Linked DNA regions of Homo sapiens. The protein of the gene in region 3 interacts with the protein of the main gene of each other region in a pairwise test. Each region holds a gene or a part of one and is shown on either strand. Other genes may lie near its edges.

Region 1 (6,850 bases), on a different chromosome or scaffold from region 3:
TCTCTCCACCTAGTCCCACTTCACTCCTTGCCACCACAGCCCTGAAGGAGGGCACCATAGTCCTGGCTCAGCTACCTTCCGTGACAGAGCACCTCTGTGCCAGGAACCTAGCACTTGCAGGCACCCAGTGCAGCAGGTGCTCCTGGCTTTAGCCACCCTTCAGTACTGGTGAGAAAACAGAGGCCTCAAGGGGTTGCATGAAGGGCCGAACTTTGCACAACTGGATGGTGGCTGAGCTGGGGTTTGAACCCAGGCTGACCTCTGAGCCATTCTCTTAACCACTAGGCTATGAAGGTGCCACCCTCACCTGCCACACACCTGACCAGGTGTGGGACAGTTCAGCCCCTCCTCCTCTTCCCGGCCTTTGGAAGCAATGATGGCAACCTCTCCTGAGCATCTCTCAGGGACTGGTCCCCTGATGGCACTGCCCTTGTCTTGGCATCAGCCGGTTCACTATGGGCACAGTGGTAACGAATGCAAAGTCCCTGGACTGACCCTAAACATGAGAGCCCAAAGGCCCGGACTGCAAGGGGTTGCCGCACTGGAGAGCAGCTCTCCTCTCTGGCACTGGTCCTGTCCCATGCCGCCAGGGACTGGCAGTGGGGGCAGCCTCAGGGCTCAGCAACAGAAGGAAAGCTTGTGTTACATGTGACCTGGCACCTTATAAGTTGTGGCTTGAAGCAAAACCCGCACCAAAGGGGGCAGTCACCTGTGGAAGCTTGAGTAGGGAAGGAGGAAGGCAGGCTTCTGGCTTCCAGAATGCACCGAGCCAGAATTGGGGGAGTTTGCTTGGCATGCAACTGAAGACAGTTCAGGGAACAAGTGCCGATGCCTATCGTGGCCAGGTCCTGGGCCCAGTGCTAGGGACCCAGAGTCCCTGCCCTGCCAGATCTCAGGAGGCCTTGGGGACACTGGGCAGGAAGACAAGGAGCACAAGTCAGGCTGAGGGAGGCTGAGCTGAGGCGCTGGCTGCCCCTGGCATCACTGGCCTCACGTGGGAAAGGCTTTTTCTGGAGTCTGGACTTGAGCTGAGCAGGAAGTGAGGTGGACAAGCACTGCTGCCATTTGGATTCAGATGGCAACTTCTTACTGACAGATGGCCTCTCTGTCACTCCTCAGGGCAAGGCATGGAGCTGATTTCTCTGTGGGCCCCCATATGCAGGAGCTCAGCAAGAAGTGGTTTATGATCTTTCAGGAGTAACGGGGAGGTTAGACTCCAGCAGCTCCAAAGGACGTGCGGGCCTTGACCTGGTGGCTGCCGAGCTCCTCCTCCTGCTTCCAAGCCCTTCGCCTCCAGGAAGCCTTCCCTGATCTTCCCAGCCAGGGGTGCCTCGCTGCTCCAGGACTGAGGAACCCCTAATGTTTTCATGCTACTCGGAGCTGCAACATCCTAAGTGGTCCTGGGCCACCTCTGTTGCTTGAGTCATGAGTGTCCAGAGGATGGAAATGAACAGATCTTGAGCACCTGCTGCGTGTCTGGCCCTGCACTGAGTGCCTTCCATCAGCTCCACACGGCTGAATGCACAGCATCCAGCCAGGGGCTGGGAATTGCTGGAAGGAGGGGCAGGTGAGAGGGATCTGTTCCTTCCCATCCTGAAGTGGCCTGGGAGCGATGAGGGGAACAGCGGAGGCACCAAGGCCTGCCAGAAGGCTGGCCCCTCATCTGTGCATCTGTGTCTTGGCCACTTGCTGGCCTCTGAGCTGCCCCTTGTTTTTCAGATGAGGAGCGGAGGCCCTGGGAAGGCAGGACCTCTGCAGCTCTGTTCAGGCCTATCAACCTGTGCACCCCTGCCTCCCGCCCCCAGCCAGGTACGACAGCCAGAAGTCTGAAGGGCCATGAGACCAAGGCAGGACTTAGTCCAGGTACTGAAGCCTCAAGCACTGCTGGATGGGGTGTGAGAGGCCCTCTCTCGGGGCTCACAGCTTTGGGGCCTCCCATGATGCCAAGGCTTCGTGCCGACGGCTCAGCAAGAACACAACTCCTACCATGCCTCAGATGTCCCAAAGCCGGGACACACCCACCACCTACTTTATCTGAGTCCCCAGCAGCCCTGGGTGGGAGGCAGCTTGACGTGTCACCCCCTTAAACCGACAGAGTACCCAGGTGTCCCCAGCTCAGAAGTGGCAGATCAGGCAGGAGCACCTGAGCTTTCGGCCTTTTTGTAAGGCAAGGTATCCCTCTGCCTTTCCAAAGAGGACAGACTCTTGGCTCCCTCTGCCCCCATCAAAACAATCCAGCCACAGAGCTGGTGCAGTGCCGATCCTGTCGATAACACCCAGTGACACCTGATTCGGCGCCTTCTGTCTGAGTGTGAGCAGCCACCATCCTCATGGCCCTCCCCAAGATTGCCCTGTACCCAGCACATGCACCTCACAGGCCCCAGGGCGATTGAGGGGATCCTCTGGGTGAGCCAGCCTCTGGGTCTCAGTTTCCTCATCTATAAAATGGGCACAGGGGGACGGAGGGATATGAGATTCCCTGATTCTTAAAGGCCTGCAGTCAACTCTCAGAGCATCCTGGCCCCTCGCCGTTTACTAACAATTAAACCGTGTCTTTCCTAAAGGGCAAGACAGAGGGATCAGGCTGGCAAGGGGGACACTTGCCTCTGTAGGGGACGCTGGCCTCCTCTGCCTGTCAGTCTTTTCACTCACAGCGAAAACCAGAAATCCACTGACTCCCGGGGGGAACCCGAAGAGAGATGCTTGGAGCTGGTAAGGGTTATGGATGGGGAAACTGAGGCCCTGACTTGTCCCCAGCTGGGCACGGACTGGGTGCCCCCCACTGCCTCCAAGCAGGGCCGCATCCAATGGCGACTCGACAGCCCTACCTGGCACCGGTGCCCGGCTCGTGGGGCGGGTGGAGGGTCGGGCAGTCGCAGGGCGCGGGCTCCCTCGGGTGGACGGCGCCCGGCCGGGCCGGGCCGGGCCGGGGAGGCAGGCGCGGGGCGCGGGGCGCGGTGCACAGCGGGGAGCGCGCAGGGAGGCGAGGAGGCGCGGACTGGGCTCCGCCCGCAGGAGAACAAACAGGTTTTCTCCGGCCGCCCGGAGCCTCGCCCCTCGCCCCTCCCCTCGGCCGGCCCCTTCCTCTGCCCCTCCTGGGGTAGGTAGAGGCGCCTGGCACATTCCGCACATTCTCCCGCCAGCGTCCTCCGCCCGCCCGCCCCTTCTCGGCCCCGCCCCGCGGGGCTGCTGGAGAAATCAAGTCTGGGGCTCCCCTTGTCGAGCACGGGGCGAGCTCCAGAAGGCTCTGCCGTGATGGAAAACTTCCAGGCAAATTCCTCCGGGCCCGTGGCCCCCAGGCCGGGAAGCCTCCGCCACGTGAAGGGCCCCCGCTCCTAGTTGCGCGATCTGGCCCCGGCACAGGGCCAACGACTTCCACAGATGCTGTCGGGTTAATTCAGTCGAGAACTACCGTTCCTAGATCCATTTTACAGATGGAGATCCCAGACAGGGGCGGGGAGGGGGGCGGGGGGCTGGCGGCTGAGATCATCCAGGAAGTCCTGCAGGCAGGAAAGGAGGAGAAGAGTGAGGGAGCCGCTCATCGTGGAAGGCCATCCTGGGACGGACCCGGGGCTCACAAGGCACAGCAAACGGGGCTATCTCCCAGGCTGGGCGACGAGATACAGCCAGACTCCCAGAGCCAATGCGGTTTGATGTACCTGTGTCACGCGTTGGTGCTCACCGAGTGCTTTATTGTGTGCAAGGCCCTGGGCTGGGGCTAAGGATGGAGAGAGCATGGAGGAAAGACCCCTCACCCCACGGCCTCCCAAACAGGGAGACAATTAAGCCAGCCCAAGAAATGGCATGGACTTGGCCAGGAGTTGGCCTACCAGGGTGGTAGGCTCAAAAGAATGGACCAGCTGCTTCTCCTTCATCAAGGCCTGCCAATGTGGTGTTTCCATGGCCCTCCAGTCCACCCACTTCTCCCTGTGCCTGCTGCCACCACCCTAGTCCAGACCTGGCCCCGAAGACCAGCCTCCTTGCTGGTGTCCCCCTGCCTCTGGTCTTGCCTTCCTTTCCCTCAGTCTCTACACGGAGGTCAGGTTAAAAGTTCACGTGTGTCAATATGATCAGGTGCTCTCCTGCTTGCAACTCCTCCATGGCTTCCCATTGCTCTCAGGGTAAAAGCCAGACTCCTTGAGACGACCTATCCCTGCAGGTCCAGCCACTCTTCCCTTTGTTCAATACATTACAGCCACACTGGCCTTTTTCCATTGCCTTCTGAATACATCACATGGCGCTCACCTTGGGGTGTTTGCTCCTGCTCCTCGGACTCCCTAAAATGCTCTTCATCCCCGTCGGGCTAGTGAGCTCTTAGTCATTCTTCAAGCCTCCACCCAGTGTCCGGAAAGCCTCCCCTGCCTGCCACCCAGTCGAGCTGATCACTTCCTTCTGTGCACCCCTTAGTTCCCTCAGATGACATCAATCCAGCATAGTGGCTGTCACCCTCTATTGTTCTAGATCCTGAGCTCTGGGAGGGCAGGGCCCCTTCTGATTCATCACTGGGTCACGGAGACCAGCACAGGGCATCCGAAGAATTTGCAGAAGGAAGTGATGGATGGGTGAGTGAGGCTGTGGAAGCTGTCCTCATCCTTTTCTTCTTGGGGTTCATGAGATAGGGAGAAGGCGACCCTGTGTGTGCTTAGGGGGTTGTATATAAAGTCACTTCTGTTCATGTCCGTCTCTTGCCAACAAGCATTTTTCTGCTTCCAATATTGTATGCCCCTGTCTGGTGGCCAGCAACTAACACCTCCCCTCCTCCACTGTGGCTACTGGTGGCCATGGATTTGGCTTGGCATCTTACCTCCTAAACATGTTTACTGTATGACTTAGGCTGTGTCATACTCTTTGTCTGGGTCCCAGTCCTCTTCAAGAGCCCCTAGTTTGAAAGGGTAGAAGGTAGAAGACATCATGATGGGTGAGATGTAGGGCAAGGAAGAGGGAAAAGGCAAACTTGTTCAAGAGCCCTGAGTCAGGGGTGGGGGGCCCAGCTGGAGAGCATGAGCAAATGTGGTGTCCAACGGCACGGCCAGCAAGTGAGGACTGCCCCAGGCTGGGCCGCCCCAGGGCCTCAAGCTCTTCCCATGTCCCAGGTGACTCAGTCTCTGCCCAGGCCCGATCTGTCACGACTGCTCCAGCCAAAGAGATCAGCCTTCCCTGAACCCCTCCCTCCCTGCCAGGCTGCCAGGCCCTGCAGCTGATCTTGCCTGCAAACGGGTTTGACTTGAATGGTAACTGCCCTGCCCTGCCCTGCCCACCTGTCCATTGCCCCAACAGTCTTCCACTTCCACGCCTGCCAGGGCACCTCTAGTCACCTCAGCCAGGCTTCAGGCACCTGCTGGCTTCTTCAGCCTCTTCAAGCACCAGACATGCCCAAATGACATGTACCCAGATAGACCAAGTGCTCAAATACCACCAGGACGCTGCACAAGATGCTCCCTTTGTTTGGAATGACATTTCCTCCCCAGGGACACCAGGTGGCCTCCACTTTCTCTCAGCAGTAACATTATCTCCTTCATGAACCTTCCCTTAGACCTCCCTCAAGTTCTAGGCCAAGGCTGTGGTGGCTGCTGCCTGCCTCCAGGCTGGGCTCTGTCCCTACCTGGCCTGAGCTTGGCCCTATCCTTTCCTATTCACATCTCTTGCACTTTTCCACCCATCCGCAGCTCCAAGACAGGCCAGCTCCCACCCCCTGGCTCTGGCAGAGTTCTCCTGAAGTCCCTCCAGCTTAGGCAGCAGTGCCACCTCCAGGGGACTGGACAGTCTCTTCCCACCAACAAGCAGGCCCTCAGCAAGGCTCTAAGTGAGAGGTAGGGGCTTCAGGGTGGGGCCAGGCTGGGCTGTCTGGGCAGGCAAGAGGCTGAAAGGTAGAGGCAGGGAGTAGCAGGTGGTGAGCCCTGTGCTGGAGAAGCCATAGCTCACAAGCAGGCCGTGGAGGCAGCGTCTCTGGGAGGCTGCATCTAAGCAATGAGATGGGTAGCACGGCAGGTGGCTGCTGGGAAAGAACTGGCCAGCAGCACTCCTCAGCTCCAGGGGAGGCCCCATTCTGATCTCCAGGGCTGGGAAGAGAACTCAAGCAAGGTGATCTAGCCCCAGAGTTCCCAGGCTAGGAGGTGGGCACAGTGGCTCACGCCTGTAATCCCAGCATTTTGGGAGGCCAAGGAGAGAAGACCGCTTGAGCTCAGGAGTTCAAGACCAGCCTGAGCGATATGGTGAGACCCCGTCTCTACAAAAAATACAGAAAACAAAAAGAGTTACCAGGCTAGAGGGGGAGAAAGAGGGGTTGGGCCCTGAAAGCTGTCAGGCCGCAAAGCTCCCCCAGGCAGTGTCCTCAGCTAGAGGGGACTGAAGACAGGCAGGCAACCTCAACACTTCAGTTGTACAAATGGGAAAACAGAGGCCCACAGAGGGACAAGATGTTGCCAGGATTACACAGCTAGTCTGAGGCAGAGCTGGGCTTAGAACCTGGGGTTCCAGCTGCTCTGGATGGAGCCCCTGCCCAGCTGGAGAGAAGCTGGGGTGCTCAGGTTCATGTGCGGGGAGGGCTGGGCTCCTGCTTGATCCCTAATCCCCTCCTTCCCGGGGCCCGCCCTGCCACCTCATCCTCTTAAGCTCTTCAACCGGTTTACACTTGCTGGGTGACTCTGCTGACTCCAAGCAGGGTGGATGCCCTGGAGGCAGGGGTCCCCAGGTGTGATTGCAGGTAGGATGGGTCCTTTGAGCCCCGAACCCGTGAGGCCAGGCCCTTGTGTTTGTAACCAGCTCTCCTGCTAGGAGCTGGTCCAGCCTCTCAGCATGTGGAGTGGCTGCTCCTCTCCCCCTGTTCTCAGCCTGCACTCCAAGCTACGGG
Region 2 (7,000 bases), on a different chromosome or scaffold from region 3:
ATTCTTTCTTTTCCTATAGGAAGAGGAAGACAGAGCTCTTACGAGGGGGAGGCAGAGACGGCACAGCAAGGGACATGCCCCCAGAATGCCACCAATGTCCCAGGACAGGCCCACCCATGGGACCAGGTTATCAGGGACCCTGTGGGGATGGGGTGGAATCTGGGGGGGTGAGCCTTCTTCCCCAGGCTGGGAGTGGGTGAGACGAGACTGAGGCCTCTACATTTGAATGCCCCCCAAACCCAGCAGTCATGTTGTGAGCAAACAAAGAAATCACGTTACTTCTTCCAACTGATCCGTAATTTCTTGGTTCTGTTGTTTCTGTGGGGAAGAGTCAAAGGAAGGTGACTGAGGGTGGCCCCCTCAACTCTATTCCCCAGACCAGGAACGGGTAGGCAGGGGCCAGGAATGGATTTTAAAGGCAAAGTTCTCAGACCCAATGGGAACACGAACTGGTAAACTCTCCTCAGGCTCTCAAGGAAAGGGGATTTGTGTCTTTGTTGGTTTTTGCCCACAGCCACAGAACTGAAAGTCTGAATCTCGATTCTCTTGAAAGGACAGTAACATAAACCTCTAGAGATGGAGTGTGAGAAAAGCCCACCCTCTGCCAGTTTGTGATTTAGAAAGGTGTAATCATTCAACAAACATTTGCTGAGCACACACAGGCCAGGTACGGTTCTTAATAGCAGGGATACCAGACAGAAAAAGACAGACAGGAGCCCTTGGCCCTGAGGTTTACATTCTAATGGGCCTTTAAATCTTGGACTCTCAGAGCTAAGAGACCTTTGATACTCTCTAACTCTACCTCCTCAGGAAATGCAAGCCCAAGGAGGAGAGGTGGCTTGTCCCAAATCAAAGAGCAAATTAAGGACTGAGTCAGGGCAGAAATACAGGGCTCCTGACAACCAGTCAGGCTAGCGCTTCCCCAAGAGGCAACAACCCCAGGGCGTGTGTGGCAAGGACTCGAGCAGGGGTGTCTAGAGAAGAGAGAGTAGGCAAAGAGGGCAGCAACAGAAGAGCCATGCTGCATGCTCCGTGCTCTGGGGTCCCTCCAGCTGAGGCCTGGGCCCCCCAGCTCCCCATTCGCCCTTGGCACCAGGGGCCCCCTGCCCCTTTCTTCAGGGTCCCAAGGGGAAACTGGAGCCCAGGATTAGCAGCATGGAATCAGGGGACCCCACTGGACTCTTACCAATTTCTCTATCGTGATATTGAGTTGTTTGTTTGTTACATAGCTGGAGTCCAGGGCTACCGCTAGCTGTTGGTACCGGCTCTGAGGCGCATGCAGAGAGGAGGAGTTGGAGGAGGATTGGGGGGAGAGGTAGAGAGAGCAATCATTAGGGTTGGGGGGTGTGTGGGCTGTCTCAGCTGGCAGAGGGGCACCCAGCCCCCGCTGTGGGAGGAGGTTGGAGGGCTGGCCTGCAGGGTCACTGGGCCACGGCCCAGGGCCTCTTACCTCCAGATCCTTCAGGTTAGCAGACGATGCAGGGCCCTCCCCATTGACACATGTCGCAGACTATAAGAGACGAGAGTGCACATGGAGATGTTCTGTCCCCTCAGTGTCTAAGCCCTCTAACTTCGTTTCTTCCCCAGCAATTGGCAACATTTTCTTTTCTAACTTGGACCCTCTGTCCCGTAACCCCTTTGTGCCAACTTCTCTCATGGTTCTTATTTCCCCACCATCCTTTCCTCCCGAGCAGCTCTCATCCAGTGCTTCTGCAGCAGGATACAATGATGCAACCAGTCATGGGGTCCAACTCCTTCATGTGCACAACTTCAAGGGAGAAGGCTCAGGGAAAAGGCGACTTCCTTAACATTGCCCAGCACATTGGCTGGTCCCAGGATCTTCCCTCTCTCTTGTGAATCCCTGCTTCAGTTTCTATCATAGTTCCCTTCCCCCCACCCCGCTCTCGGCCTCAGTTCCTGAGGTACCTCACAAACAAGACCATTGAGCTGTTGGGAGAGTTGTCGCAGGCTCTCGGTTGATGAGAAAGTCCTAGGGATGGAGACACAGGGGTCAGGGGTGCAGGTGGCTCAATGGGAAAGAAGGTCATGGGCAGTGGCCTCCCTGACTCTCTCAGCCTAGAGACTGCTGCCCCAACAGGAGACACTCACTTGGTTTCATCCATGAGATTAGGGACATTGTCAGCATCATGATTCTGTTTGGGAAGAAACGTGTGAGATGGTCATTCAATTTCTGGTAAGAATCACCCAGGATGGGGTGAGTCAAGCTCCCAAACTCATTCTAACAATCTTCAATCTCCCCAGGCCTCAAGGAAAAAAGCCCAGTCTGAGCCTTCCCCCGGCCCGGTCCCCAGGAAGGGCCCTTGACCCTAGGGAACAAGCTGCCTGTGAAAGGAGAAGATAATGCATAATAGGTACAGGAGGGCAGTGGGCAGAGGGGGAGGAGGCACGAACCTGAGATGCCGCCATGCTAGTGAGACTGGCACCAGGGGAAGGGACACCGCCAGGTAACACGGTGTCATCAGATGGTTGTAGAGTAGCAGCATTGTCCTTGGGTGTCTGTCACAGAACAGAGCAGGGGGTTAGGGGGCCATGCGGGAGAGGTGCCTCAGTACTATGAACACAAGGGTGTGGAACAGGTAGGACAGGTGTTGCTGCAGTCAGAGTGACAGTCACACATGCTAGGAGCCACTCAGGGGTGTGGATTGGTTGCCCAGGCCTTGGGCTGCTAGGCAGCATTTCAGATGGCCAAAGCTCAAAGCAGGGGCTGCACGGCCTCCTTCATGAACACGAGGACCTCGCTCTCCCTGGAGCTCAGCAAAAGACAGCAGCAGGCTCTGACCTGTGGCAGCCACAGCAGGCAGGAGGAAGGTGTGCCAAAGTCAGGGAGGAGAAAGGCACTGTTCTTCCAGAAGGCCAGTCTGTGCTGCAGAGTGACCCTCACTGGGCCCCTACTGGGCAGAGGATGGTGATGAGGAAGTAGTTGTCTGGGCAATGCACAATGTAGCTATCTGCCTGTCTCCTCCTTTCCTCCCTTCCCTTCTCCCCTGCAGTGGCACAATCATAGTTCACTGCAGCTTCCACCTCCTGGGCTCAAGCAATGCTCCCACCTCAGCCTCCCTAGTAGCTGAGATTATAGGTGCACACTACCATGCTCAGCTAATTTCTATAGAAACATGGTCTTGCCATCTTGCCCAGGCTGGTCTCAAAGTCCTGGGCTCAAGTGATCCACCTTGGTCTCCCAAAATGTTGAGATTACAGGTGTGAGCCATTGCACTTGGCCTACTGGCTGTGTTTCTGATTCAGGCCTTTTCAGGGGGAAAAAAAAAAAGCTGCCCAACTAGAAGACTCTCTCCAACTCTCTGGAGGTAAAAAGAGGATAAACCATGGCCAACACCCCCACCCCGACCTCTTACCTCCAAAAACATCTACCCAGCCAAGAAACCACCCAAGAAAACAGAGGTAAGACATCTTCCCTGTGGCTCTTGGCAACTTGGAAGTTGTAGGGCCTCTTTCCTGGGAATAGTACCTGAGGACAATCCTAGGATTCAGAACTTGGGGTCATGTGGAGCCTCTCCCTTGCCCCCAACTGGACCTACCTGCTTGATCAGAGCCCCACCCAGCCTCTCTCCAGGCTCTGACCTTACTCTTCGCCCAAGCCTCTGGTTCTAGAGATCTTCTAATATCTGACAAGCCAGATGGGCAGACAGTGGAAAAAGCTGGCTGACCAGCTAAGCTGGACAAGAGAAAAACACCAGGGAGCCAGGGCCTGGCCACGGAAGCTGGGTCTGGGAGAAGTGACTACACCTCTCTCCAGGGAAAGGACTGCGCGCTCACTGGACCCTTCAGCCCTGGCTTCTGAAAACCCAAATCTGCTTCCCTCCTTAGAGCAAGTGCTGCAGAGGCTGGTGGAACTGAAGATGAGCCAAGCTGCCTTTGCATCTTTGCAAGTTTACTGTGACCATGGAACCTGGTGTTTCCTTGACAATGCCTACAACTGAATCTAATAGGTCAGAGCAAGGGTTCAGTTGCTGGCCAGGCATTAGCCTTGAGGGAAGGCTGGCACTCCTAGCAATGGACCCTGCTAGGCTTTAGGGCCCTCCTGGCATCTTCGGTTCCCACTGATCTCTAGGATTAGACACAAGAATGCTCAGAGGAAGGGAATTTTTTTTTTTTTTTTTTTTTGAGATGGGAGTCTCACTCTGTCGCCCAGGCTGGAGTGTAGTGGCGAGATCTCCACTCACTGCAACCTCCGCCTCCTGAGTTCGAGATTCTCCTGCTTCAGCCTCCCAAGCAGCTGGGATTATAGGTGCACGCTACCACGCCCAGCTAATTTTTGTATTTTTAGTAGAGATGGGGTTTCACCATGTTGGCCAGGCTGCTCTCGAACTCCTGACCTCAGGTGATCCACCCTCCTCAGTCTCCCAAAGTGCTGGGATTACAGGCATGAGCTACTGCACTTGGCTGAAAAAGCATTTTTCTGAGGACTTTCTGACACACATAGCATGATTATTTTGTGAGCAACCAAGTTATTTCATTATTTTAAGTCTTGTAGCCAAGATGGAGTTTTTAAAAAAGCCTACTCTCCTCAAAATGTCCCATCCCATTAAGATATTTTTTCTCTCTCCATTATTCCCTACTTCTGGAAATGTTATCAGCTCCGCTCAGGATACTACGATCACAGGCCTGCATTCCTGGAGTAGAAAACTTACATGGTAATAAAAATGAGAAATTAAAAAAAAACAAAACCTACATTGGAAACAGTTACGGATATAGAGAAGGTATAAAAACAGCAAGGGGCTGGGCATGGTGGCTCACACATGTAATCTCAGCACTTTGGGAGGCCAAGGCAGGTGAATCACTTGAGGCCAGGAGTTCGAAACCAGCCTGAGCAACATGGCAAGACCCCATCTCTATTAAAAATACAAAAAAAATGGCCGGGCGTGATGGTGCAACATCTGTAATCCCAGCTACTTGGGAGGCTGAGGCATGAAAATCACTTGAACCCGGGAGGGGGAGGTTGCAGTGAGCCAAGATCACACCACTGCACTCCAGGAGAAAGAGCAAGACTCTTTCTCAAAAACAAAAACAAAACAGCAAGAAGGAAATACGGGGATCTAGGCCTTTGTTTCCAGAATAGAGGGACCTGGGCTGGCACAGAATCTCAGAGCATTAGGAAACAGGCTGAAGACCCCCTAATCCACTGGACCATTGGCAGAGCAAAAGCCAAATGCTTTTGGCTGCAGGTCACCTCTAAGCCTGTGCTCCCCAGCCGTACCACTCAGCGTCTCCTCTGAGCTGGCAAGGTGAGTCACAGCACCTGGACAGACCTGATCAACTGGAGGGTAACAGGTATGAGACTGGACAACTCTCTAACAGCAGCCAAGGCTGCTCTGTCTCAGTCCCTCTCCCCATACCCATCTCCAACAGGATCAGGCTCTATTCGTGCCCTGCTCCTCTGGCTTGGCAGGAAGGAGTCCCCCAGGTGAGTTAGAGATGGAAGAAATGCCAAATCACAGCCAGAGGAGGTTGTCTCCCAGCCCTGTGTACCTCCATGCCCTGCCCCCCACCAGGCTCCCTGTGTTCCTGAAAGGTGCTCTGTGAGTTCACACTCTGGCCACGGCCTCACCGCTCCCCCTGCCTCCCCCACTCCCCATATGGATTAATGTTACCCACCTTTAATCTTCAAGCCAGCTTCAAATGCCACCTTCTCCAGCCTGGAGTCCATTTGGAACCAACCTCCCCCCGAGCTGAGCATTTGGAATGTTCCAAAATTCTCTCTTGCCTCCTTCAGAGGAGTCTGCCTCCCTCGGTGTGCAGCCTACCTTGTTCATCTATTTTATCCACTGTTTATTTATCAAAGTGCCTTTGTTGTCAAGAGCCCAATGAATATGGCTAAATGTCCATTTGGAGAGATTAGGGGCAGAACGTCTTGGTCACTCATCTGTTTGGTTAACCTCACAACTTTTACAGTTAGTTCCTCTGAAAAAATAGCTTCAATCCTTCCAACTATAATGTGAACTCATTTTCTTTTAACCCTTTGTTCCCTACTCTTAAACCAAAGTGAATTAATTTAAAAAAAAAAAAAAAACACTAACTTCTAGGTGGTTTACTGATCTTTGCCTTTAGGGTAAAACCTAAAGGTCTGTTGGTTTTTTTGTGTTTTTTTTTTTTCATCTCTCCTAGTCTGAGAGTACCCACACTGGGCATTCAAAAGCCCAAATCCCAGAATCCCAGACTGGGAGCAGTGGCTCACGCCTGTAATCCCAGCACTTTGGGAGGCCAAGGTGGGTGGACCACTTGAGGTCAGGAGTTCAAGACCAGCCTGGCCAACATGGTGAAACCCCATCTCTACTAAAAATACAAAAATGAGCCAGACATGGTGGCAGGCACCTGTAATCCCAGCTACTCAGGAGGCTGAGGCAGGAGAAACACTTGAACCCAGGAGGCAGAGGTTGCAGTGAGCCAAGATTGTGCCACTGCACTCCAGCCTGGGCAGTGAGACTCCGTCTCTGAAAAAAAAAGAAGAAAAAAAAAAGCCCCAAATCCCACACACCTGCTCTAAAAGTTATTCCCAAATTACCTTTAAACTTTTAAACTTTAAGATATGTCTCACCTTCTCCAAGATGATAAAAGATTTGGGGGAAGAATAAAAACCCAATCAATCAAGCAGGTGAAGAAGCGGACATAAACAGGCGGAAGGTTAATGGCAGCAACATAAAATAAGCCAGAGGCAAAGTATCCCCCAAACCAGAGAAGCCTCAGGGGCATGCACAGCTGGAGAGAGCAAGCCAGAGAGGGGTCTCGGCACTGCCTCACCTTCCACTTGTCCAATGGGGGGAGCGCTACCCCATTGGAACGGTTAAGGTCGGACACCAGCACCTTCAGAATGTCCTGAATCTACAGGAGGCGAAAAGGGAAAAACAAGGGCAGGGGGAGAAAGGTAGAAGTGGCTTAGAGAGAGGCAAGAAAGTCAGGGAAGGAGGAAGATGTGGGTTCAGGGAAATGAAATAAGAAGAGTGGAGGAGATCAATACCATGGC
Region 3 (8,028 bases):
GCAATTCTCCTGCCTCAGCCTCCCGGGTAGCTGGGATTACAGGCGTCAGCCACCTCGCTTGGCTAGTTTTTGTATTTTTAGTAGAGATAGGGTTTCATCACGTTGGCCAGGCTGGTCTCGAACTCCTGACATCAGGTGATCCACCCACCTCAGCCTCCGAAAGTGTCAGGATTATAGGCGTGAGCCACCTCGCCCGGCCGCCCAAACATTTTAAAGTTAGAATCTCTTTTTATAAGCAAAATTTTCCATAGAAGGTGACTATGTGCCACTTTCCTCTCCAAGCACCTGATCTGCTTCATTTCACAGAATCCTTAGAACAGCTCCACGAGTAGGTACTCTGAATACTCCCGCTTTACAGATGTGGAAGCTCAAATGCAGAGAGGTTGGGCAACATGCCCAAGGTCAATGAATGCAGAACTGCTGCAGTGGGAGCAGGGGTGGGTGACACCCACTAGGGAGGTGCTTTCAAACTCCTACTGCTCCAAGGAGCAAGCTAGAAAATCCCACTTCTCAGGCCCCTTCCACTAGGACACACTATGAGCTTAACACTGCTAAGAACTCACTGAGGAATGGTGACATTTGGGGGCGGCTCCTTCAGTGCTTTGTTTGGCTTCTTTTTTAAATTATAAATGGTGGTTTGAAAGTTGTTGGAGGGGAAAATCAGATGAAATCAGGGATGTGGCTGAAGCAGTCAGTGTAGCAGTGTAGCAGAGAAGCAGAGAAGCTGTCAGCAGCCTACCCAGGCCCCGAAATGGGCACAGCCCTGCATTTCTGGCCTGAGGCTTGCCGAGGTCTTAGGTGAACTTCAGCTCTTTCTACAGCACCCCAGTCTCAGCACTCTTTGGTGGATGTCCTGATTGGCTGGGAGATTGTTGCTTCCTGATACAGTGGTGATTACTTCTGAAAGATGGGGTAATACCAACAGCTATCGTTTCTGACCATTTACTGTGCAGCATCACTGTGCAAAGTATTTTTATACATATCCTATTGACTCCTCTCAAAACTCCTGTGAGGCAAGCAGGCACCCCAGTGGCCTCATCCTAGTTCTGGCCCTGGTGACATTATGATTGCCTCCATCCTCCATTTGATAGGTACAGAAACTGAGGTTCAGAGAAGTGAAGTAAATTCCCCCAGATCACGCAGCTAGCAAACAGCTGAGCTTCTATGCTCATCCTAAGGCTCGGTTGAAATGGATTTTTTAAAAGATGTATTTTGGGCTCTTTACTATATAGAAAACCGAATCTGTTTATCACTAAGGTTACTAATAGGCCTTACATCTGTGAAAACTTATCTGTCAGCTGGCCCTGAAATGTTCTGAAATGAGTCTGAGCACAGGATGCCTGTGACAACCGAATAGTTTAAAAAAATTCTCCATGGGAGCCGAAACCCTATTAAGACAGGTCTTTATTTTTGTTCCTGAATGCCACATTTAGAAACAAAATGTCATATTTTTGTATATGAATGTCACAAGTGACAAAGCATATGTTGCAACTTGGCTTCTAATGGTTGAAAAAAAAAGAGAGGTAAATTATCATAATGTTGGGATCTTCTCAATTATATTTGCATTTTCATTTCTATCAGAAGTCCATTTTAGCAAAGGAATGTAACCTTAGTCACTTGAAACTGCTGTTCCCTTAGAAAACAATTGTAAATGTAATAAGCAAAAAGGATAGAAAATGCCCACAGGGGAAAAAAATGATCCATCTGGGGTCAGAGCCATCGTGTAGATTGATTCATTCTTCTTCTAGCATTCTTATTCAGGAAGGAAAACTTGAACATTTTCTAGATTTTAGGATATTTAAGATTTGCAAGGAATTGGGGGAAAGGGAAAAGGAATGAAATTTCAGTCCCACTGGCAGGGATCAAATAGAGATTTTCTCAACTTTTAAAAGAACCGTTTTACATGTCCCAATCACCTCATAGTTCCTGAGTCTCTCTTCTGCATAAGGCATGTACTAGTTGTTAAGGGAGGATACAATAAGGTCATGATTGCTTTAAAATTATTCATAATAAAAACACATTTTGAGACTTGATTCTAAATGTTAAACTTAAATTTGAGCAATTTAATTGCCCGTTGAATAGGAATGAAATCCCACCGGTAGGCAGTTATTTCTTACAACCACTGTGTGTGAAATTGAAATCTTAAGATACCATTTCAAATATTCACCTTCTCTAAGGAAGTTCTCCCCAAAGAGTTGTGAAAGATAAGAAACTGACCCAAAGTCATATGCAGTAATCTCTTTTTCTTTACACACTCAGGTCAAAGTAGAAGCATATTATTAAAAAGAAACGTTATGCCCTGAATTTGGCTGTTCTGAGGTTACCTCTTGGAACCCAAGGATATATTTAATTTAAAAACTGACTTGAGCCCCATGCAAAACTGTGACAAGGAAAGTAATAATTTATCAGATTAAATAAAAACAAGCAGATGTGGCCAGGCGCGGTGGCTCATGCCTGCAATCCCAGCACTGTGGGAGGCTGAGGCAGATGGACCGCCTGAGGTCAGGAGTTTCAGACCAGCCTGGCCAACATGGTGAAACCCCGTCTCTACTAAAAATACAAAAAATTAGCTAGGCGTGGTGGCGAGCGCCTGTAATCCCAGCTACTCGGGAGGCTGAGGCAGGGAAAATCGCTTGAACCCAGGAGGCAGAGGTTGCAGTGAGCTGAGATCGCACCATTGCACTCCAGCCTGGGTATCAGAGCGAGACTCCATCTCAAAAAACAAACAAACAAACAAATAACACCCAAGCAGATGCAAACAGGTCATTTAGTCACCACGATAATGAACGTTAAAATGGAAAACACTTACATGTTTTATTTAGGAGAAGAAGGGGGTGAGGTGAAGGAATCCTGTTTCCTGCTTTTAAAAAACAGGAAATAGTTTCCAAATTTGGGTGGGCAATTCTTATTTTAAACCCCCATTTCACCTTTAAATTTAATTTCAAGCTCTTTTAAAATTATCTTAATGATGCCCTTTACTATAACATAGCAGCTGCCATTTATGAGTGCTTACTATATACCAGTTGCTTTTCATGCAAGCAACTTCATATCTGTTATTACCCCCATGCCATTACAAATCTATGTGCCACCCTTTTGTGCACTAACTCATATAATCCCCACAATAACTTAGGCAATAGGTTCTGTCGTCTCCATTTTACAGATGAGGATACTGGGAGTTTATTTGTTTGTTTGTTTATTTATTTTGAGACGGAGTCTCACTCTGTCACCCAGGCTGGAGTGCAATGGCGCGATCTCTGCTCACTGCAACCTCTGCCTCCTGGGTTCAAGTGATTCTCCTGCCTCAGCCTCCCGAGTAGCTGGGGTTACAGGCATGTGCCACCACACCTGGCTAATTTTTGTATTTTTAGTAGAGATGGGGTTTCACCATGTTGGGCAGGCTGGTCATGAACTCCTGACCTCAAGTGATCCACCCGCCTCGGCCTCTCAAAGTGCTGGGATCGCCTCGGCCTCTCAAAGTGCTGGGATTACAGGTGTGGGCCACCGAGCCCGGCCAGGATACTGGGAGTTTAAATTCCTGCTGTGAGCCCAGGTTGACACAGCTGGTCAAGGATGGGTTAGAATCCAGGTAGTCTGACTCCAGAGCTACTACCGCATACTGCCTCCTCAGATTAAATAATTTTCCTAGGACATGCTAACTGATAAGTAAGAGTCTAAATCAAACCCAGGCAGTTGGGTTCCAAAATTCCAGCGTTTAACCACCACATTGACTGGTTATAAGTAGGTAAACTGTTCATCACAACCTATATATTTATTTTCATTTCTGTTAGAAATGAAAGTAGTGTGGTAGGTTACATATTTATCACATAGTTTAGGCTTGCCTAAATTCTAAGTATTTTCTTTTTTAAATTAAAAACAAGGGTCTATCGGAAAAAAAAAAACCCAACTTTTTTTTTTTTTTTTTTTTTTGAGACAGGGTCTCACTCTGTTCCCCAGACTGGGGGGCAATGGTGCGATCATGGCTCACTGCAGCCTCAACCTCCTGGGCTCAAGCAATCCTCCCACCTCCGCCTCCCGAGTAGCTAGGATTTCAGGCAAGCACCACCACGCCCAGCTAATTATTTTTATTTTTTATTTTTTGTAGAAACGGGGTCTCACTGTGTTGCTCAGGCTAGCCTGGGTCTCCCAAAGTGCTGGGATCACAAGCATGAGCCACCGAGCACAGCCGAAAAAGTCTTTTTGTATACTGAAGTCTCCACTAGGACAAAAATTTGCTCTTAAGGCTTCCTTTGGGACACACACACACACACACACACACACACACACACACACACAGCTTTTGATTATACCCATTAGGGACCCAAGCCTTGGGACACAGGGACCAGAAAATGACAAGAGCATGCAGGCAGTAGTAAACTCTGGTTATCCTTAAAATGGGAACAGAAATGTATGCCTATGATCCAGACTGATCATATAAAACCATGGATCCTGAAAGTACGTTCCCTCTTTACAAGCCTTAATGACTGGCATCACGCACAAATAGGCCTTTCAGCTTCTGAACGCAGATATTTTCAAGGAACTCTGAGGCCCAGGAGAGCCTAAGTTTTTCTCCACGGAAGGGCAAACTACTAGCCTCCCCCGCTTCCCCTCTGCGTTCCTGCCTCTTTCTAGAAGGAGGCTGAGAGGGGGAAGCCTGAACCCCCAAATCAAGTCCGCCTTCTTTCTCTGTGCCTGACCCAGGGCAAAATAATCTCTCTGATCCTGTTCTTGACCATTGAAAAAGCACTTTCTCTGGTCGGGATACTACTGGCACTTTACATGGGGGGCAGTTTAACCGCAGGAGTCCGCTTTCTGAAAGGTGCAGAGGGAGGGGATTCCGCCACCAGCCGACTGAGAGGAGCCCCGGCCCCGCGTGGTCCCTCCCAGCCACCCTCCCTCTGGGATTAGCTGCCCTGGCTCTGCTCTAGGCGTCCCCAGCCCGTGCAGTCCCGGCTGGCGCACCACCATCGCCTCTGCAGAGCGCGGCCGCAGCCCGGAGCCCGCAGCCCGGAGCCCGCAGCCTGGGGCCCGCAGCCCGTAGCCCGCAGCCCGCAGAGCCGCGCTGTCCGGGGCATCCCAGTGCACGGCGTCCGTGGACCTGGGACCTCGAACCTGGGACGGGCGGAAAATCCACTGGGAACACTTGCATTTCTGTAGGTGCTTATTTCACATTCTTGTCTTTTCTTGCTTGCTCGAGCTGTTCGTGGGTTACTTTCTGCCTTAGTTAAACCAAAAGGGAAAGGCGGAAGAGGGGAAGCCCTGAAGAATGATTTAGTGGTTGCCCAGCCTCCTTTCCAAGGAGAGGTGTTCGCTGAGCGGCTCTCCCCGTCCCCGACACTGGCCCCTTTAAGAAGCCAAGTCAGTCCTGATGCTGCTGTTTGTATTGCTAATCCCCAGGAGCCCCGTTTAAAAAAAAAAAAAAAAAAAGGAAGAAAAAAGGGGAGGTGGGGGGACCGGGCAGCTGTCTCTTTAAATGTGATTTCCTTCTATTGTATTTGAATCGTGATCAGGAAAAAGGAAATGAAACCAGAGACAGAGGGAAGCTGAGCGAAAATAGACCTTCCCGAGAGAGGAGGAAGCCCGGAGAGAGACGCACGGTCCCCTCCCCGCCCCTAGGCCGCCGCCCCCTCTCTGCCCTCGGCGGCGAGCAGCGCGCCGCGACCCGGGCCGAAGGTGCGAGGGGCTCCGGGCGGCCGGGCGGGCGCACACCATCCCCGCGGGCGGCGCGGAGCCGGCGACAGCGCGCGAGAGGGACCGGGCGGTGGCGGCGGCGGGACCGGGATGGAAGGTTAAGTCCTGAGCAGCAGCAGCAGCTGCAGCCGCCTGGAGCCAGGCTGCGCGCCCCGGCCCCCGCCTCGGCCGCGGCGCGCCCGCAGCCCGGTGATTCGCTCTCTCTCTTTGGCGTTTGAAGGGAGCGCGGTGACTGTCCTTGAGCGCGGAGGGGCGAGCTCGCCGGCGGAGCGCCGGAGCAAGCGGAGGCGCAGGAGCGGCGGCGACGGCGGCGGCGGCGGCGGCGCCCGAGCACCCGAGGGGGTCCGAGCCCCGGCAGCCGGCCAGCCCCGCGCCACAAAGGGAGCGCCCCCGCCGCCCGGCACCCCGCCTCCCTCCCCAATGTCCTCGGCCATCGAAAGGAAGAGCCTGGACCCTTCAGAGTAAGTGCGGCCCCCCTGCCCCTGCCACCCCCGGTGTCCACGGCCTCGCGTCCCGGAGCGTCGGGGGGACCCGGGCGGCCCGCGAGGGGGCTCCAGGTGCGCGCTCGCGGCGTGCCCTTGGCCCCCTGTGCCGAGCGCTGGGCTCCTCCTTCCTCCCGGGTGATTCCGGGGGCTCTGGGAGAGGGACTGGGCGGCGGGCGGCAGGGACAGGGGTCGGCCCGGCGCCTCTGCGGGCCACTCCAGGCTACTGGGACGCTCCCCAAAGCCACCACGGGCCAGAAAGTTTGCACGGGAGCAGGCACGAGGAGAGCCTGGAGGCGCGCAGGTGCAGTCCGGAGAGCGTTCTGGGCTTGACTCTGCTCCCTTCTTCCCTCTCCTTCTCGGTCCTTTCTCTTTGTCCATTTGGTCTTGGAAAGGGGAACATTCCAAGTGGCGGCCTCCGGGGTCCCCAACGGCCGCCTTCCCGGTCCGCAGGTGGAGCCGCTGCCAGCCTTGCGGATAACGGGCGGGTGAGGGGTCCGACCGTCCACCTCGGAGCTGGCTCTGGGCCTCCAGGGATTTCTAGAGCAGCGAAATCCGGAGTAAATCTGAGTAGGTGTACCCCTCCTCGGGGTCCACCGATGGGGACATGTGAACCTCGAAAGTTAATGCACCATTTTGTGTATAGGTGAATTATTCTGGGGAGTAGAGTCTCGTAGTTTTTAGCAGAGTCTTAAAAGGGTTTGGGGTCAGGGAACCAGAGCTCTAATGAGCATTGGCCGCATCTGTTTTCTGAGCCGCGTACTGGTTTGGAATGTTTTTCTATCCCTCACCCATTCTTCAGCGTTAACATGGGGAGTAAGGGGTGTTTAAGATATCATTTTCCTGTCAACGCAAATGCCCTTTTAAGAGTCATTAGCTGTCTGGTTTTGAGAATTTTTATTCCTTTGAAGTCCCCCTCTAATCCTTTGAAGGGATTTGTTACACAAGACCAAAGGAGCTGGTTAATGACTTGTCCATTTGTGCTTTTAAGAGACATTTGTTTTGTTTTTTCTTTTCCTGCTTTAAAAGAATTGTGCTTTCCTGCTTGAAATACCGCACACACACACATACACCCTTCAATTTCGGCTTTCTATGGTGTTTATTTACCTGGGTTTTACCCTCAGTTACCAGCATAAAAGCTCAACATATTCTCATAAAACACAGGAAGTACCACCATCCAATGAGAATATAAACATCACTATTCAGTCTTGAAGGTTAAGACACCAGTTCTGTAATGAGCTAGGTTTGTTATAACAAAAACCCCCACTTCCTTCAACAAATTCTCAGGAGAAAAATAACATTCCTTTTTAAAAGTATGTTTATGCAAACAATGGGTTTAAAGGGTGGTTTGATCACTTTTTTAAAATAAACTTAAAACTGAGCTCTGAGTTTCAGAGACTGGGCAAGATCATAGTAACACAATAAGGGAGTGAATTGGATGAATTGGTGCCTCATGCCTTTTTGATCAGCAGAATTTAGTCACTAATCCTTTCAATAGAAGATTAATCTGAAGGTTTCATTTCCCTGAAGGAAGTTTGCTTCTTTCAAAGTTTGTGCTTTTTCACTGAGGTTAGAAACTGAAACATCCTAACTTCCTAATACAACAGATATCTACTGCTGGAGGCTCACCAGCTCCTTCCTTCACTTCACTATTTGCCCAACGAAGACAGATTCTGATCAAAGAGGGACAAGCCAGTTGAGAAATTGCTGCAGCACATTCTCCCCATGCCCTTAGAAATTGTTATGATTGTCCCAGAAATCCAGGCTTAAATGATACTCAGGTGTAATATTCAAGATAAGGGTCTGGGAGAATATAAAATATTAATTTGAGGGTGAATCAATCTAATTCAGTCATTGT

The links. Proteins that work in one complex are often made in the same cells at the same time.
Region 1: the proteins of LMO2 (region 3) and ZNF185 interact in binary tests that used the Homo sapiens proteins (3 or more experiments, as listed by UniProt).
Region 2: the proteins of LMO2 (region 3) and GOLGA2 interact in binary tests that used the Homo sapiens proteins (3 or more experiments, as listed by UniProt).

What each region holds. Positions count from the first base shown.
Region 1 is NC_000023.11:152,894,217-152,901,066, reverse strand, and holds the start of ZNF185 (zinc finger protein 185), read right to left. Parts: upstream 3,001-6,850; 5' UTR 2,829-3,000; intron 1-2,828. UniProt on the Homo sapiens protein: May be involved in the regulation of cellular proliferation and/or differentiation.
Region 2 is NC_000009.12:128,266,008-128,273,007, forward strand, and holds part of GOLGA2 (golgin subfamily A member 2), read right to left. Parts: intron 6,859-7,000; coding exon 6,778-6,858; intron 2,518-6,777; coding exon 2,413-2,517; intron 2,154-2,412; coding exon 2,110-2,153; intron 1,991-2,109; coding exon 1,927-1,990; intron 1,511-1,926; coding exon 1,451-1,510; intron 1,268-1,450; coding exon 1,187-1,267; intron 319-1,186; coding exon 280-318; intron 14-279; coding exon 1-13. UniProt on the Homo sapiens protein: Peripheral membrane component of the cis-Golgi stack that acts as a membrane skeleton that maintains the structure of the Golgi apparatus, and as a vesicle thether that facilitates vesicle fusion to the Golgi membrane.
Region 3 is NC_000011.10:33,867,467-33,875,494, reverse strand, and holds part of LMO2 (rhombotin-2), read left to right. Parts: intron 1-5,507; 5' UTR 5,508-5,778; coding exon 5,779-5,785; exon of another isoform or gene 5,786-5,908; coding exon 5,909-6,149; intron 6,150-8,028. UniProt on the Homo sapiens protein: Acts with TAL1/SCL to regulate red blood cell development. Also acts with LDB1 to maintain erythroid precursors in an immature state.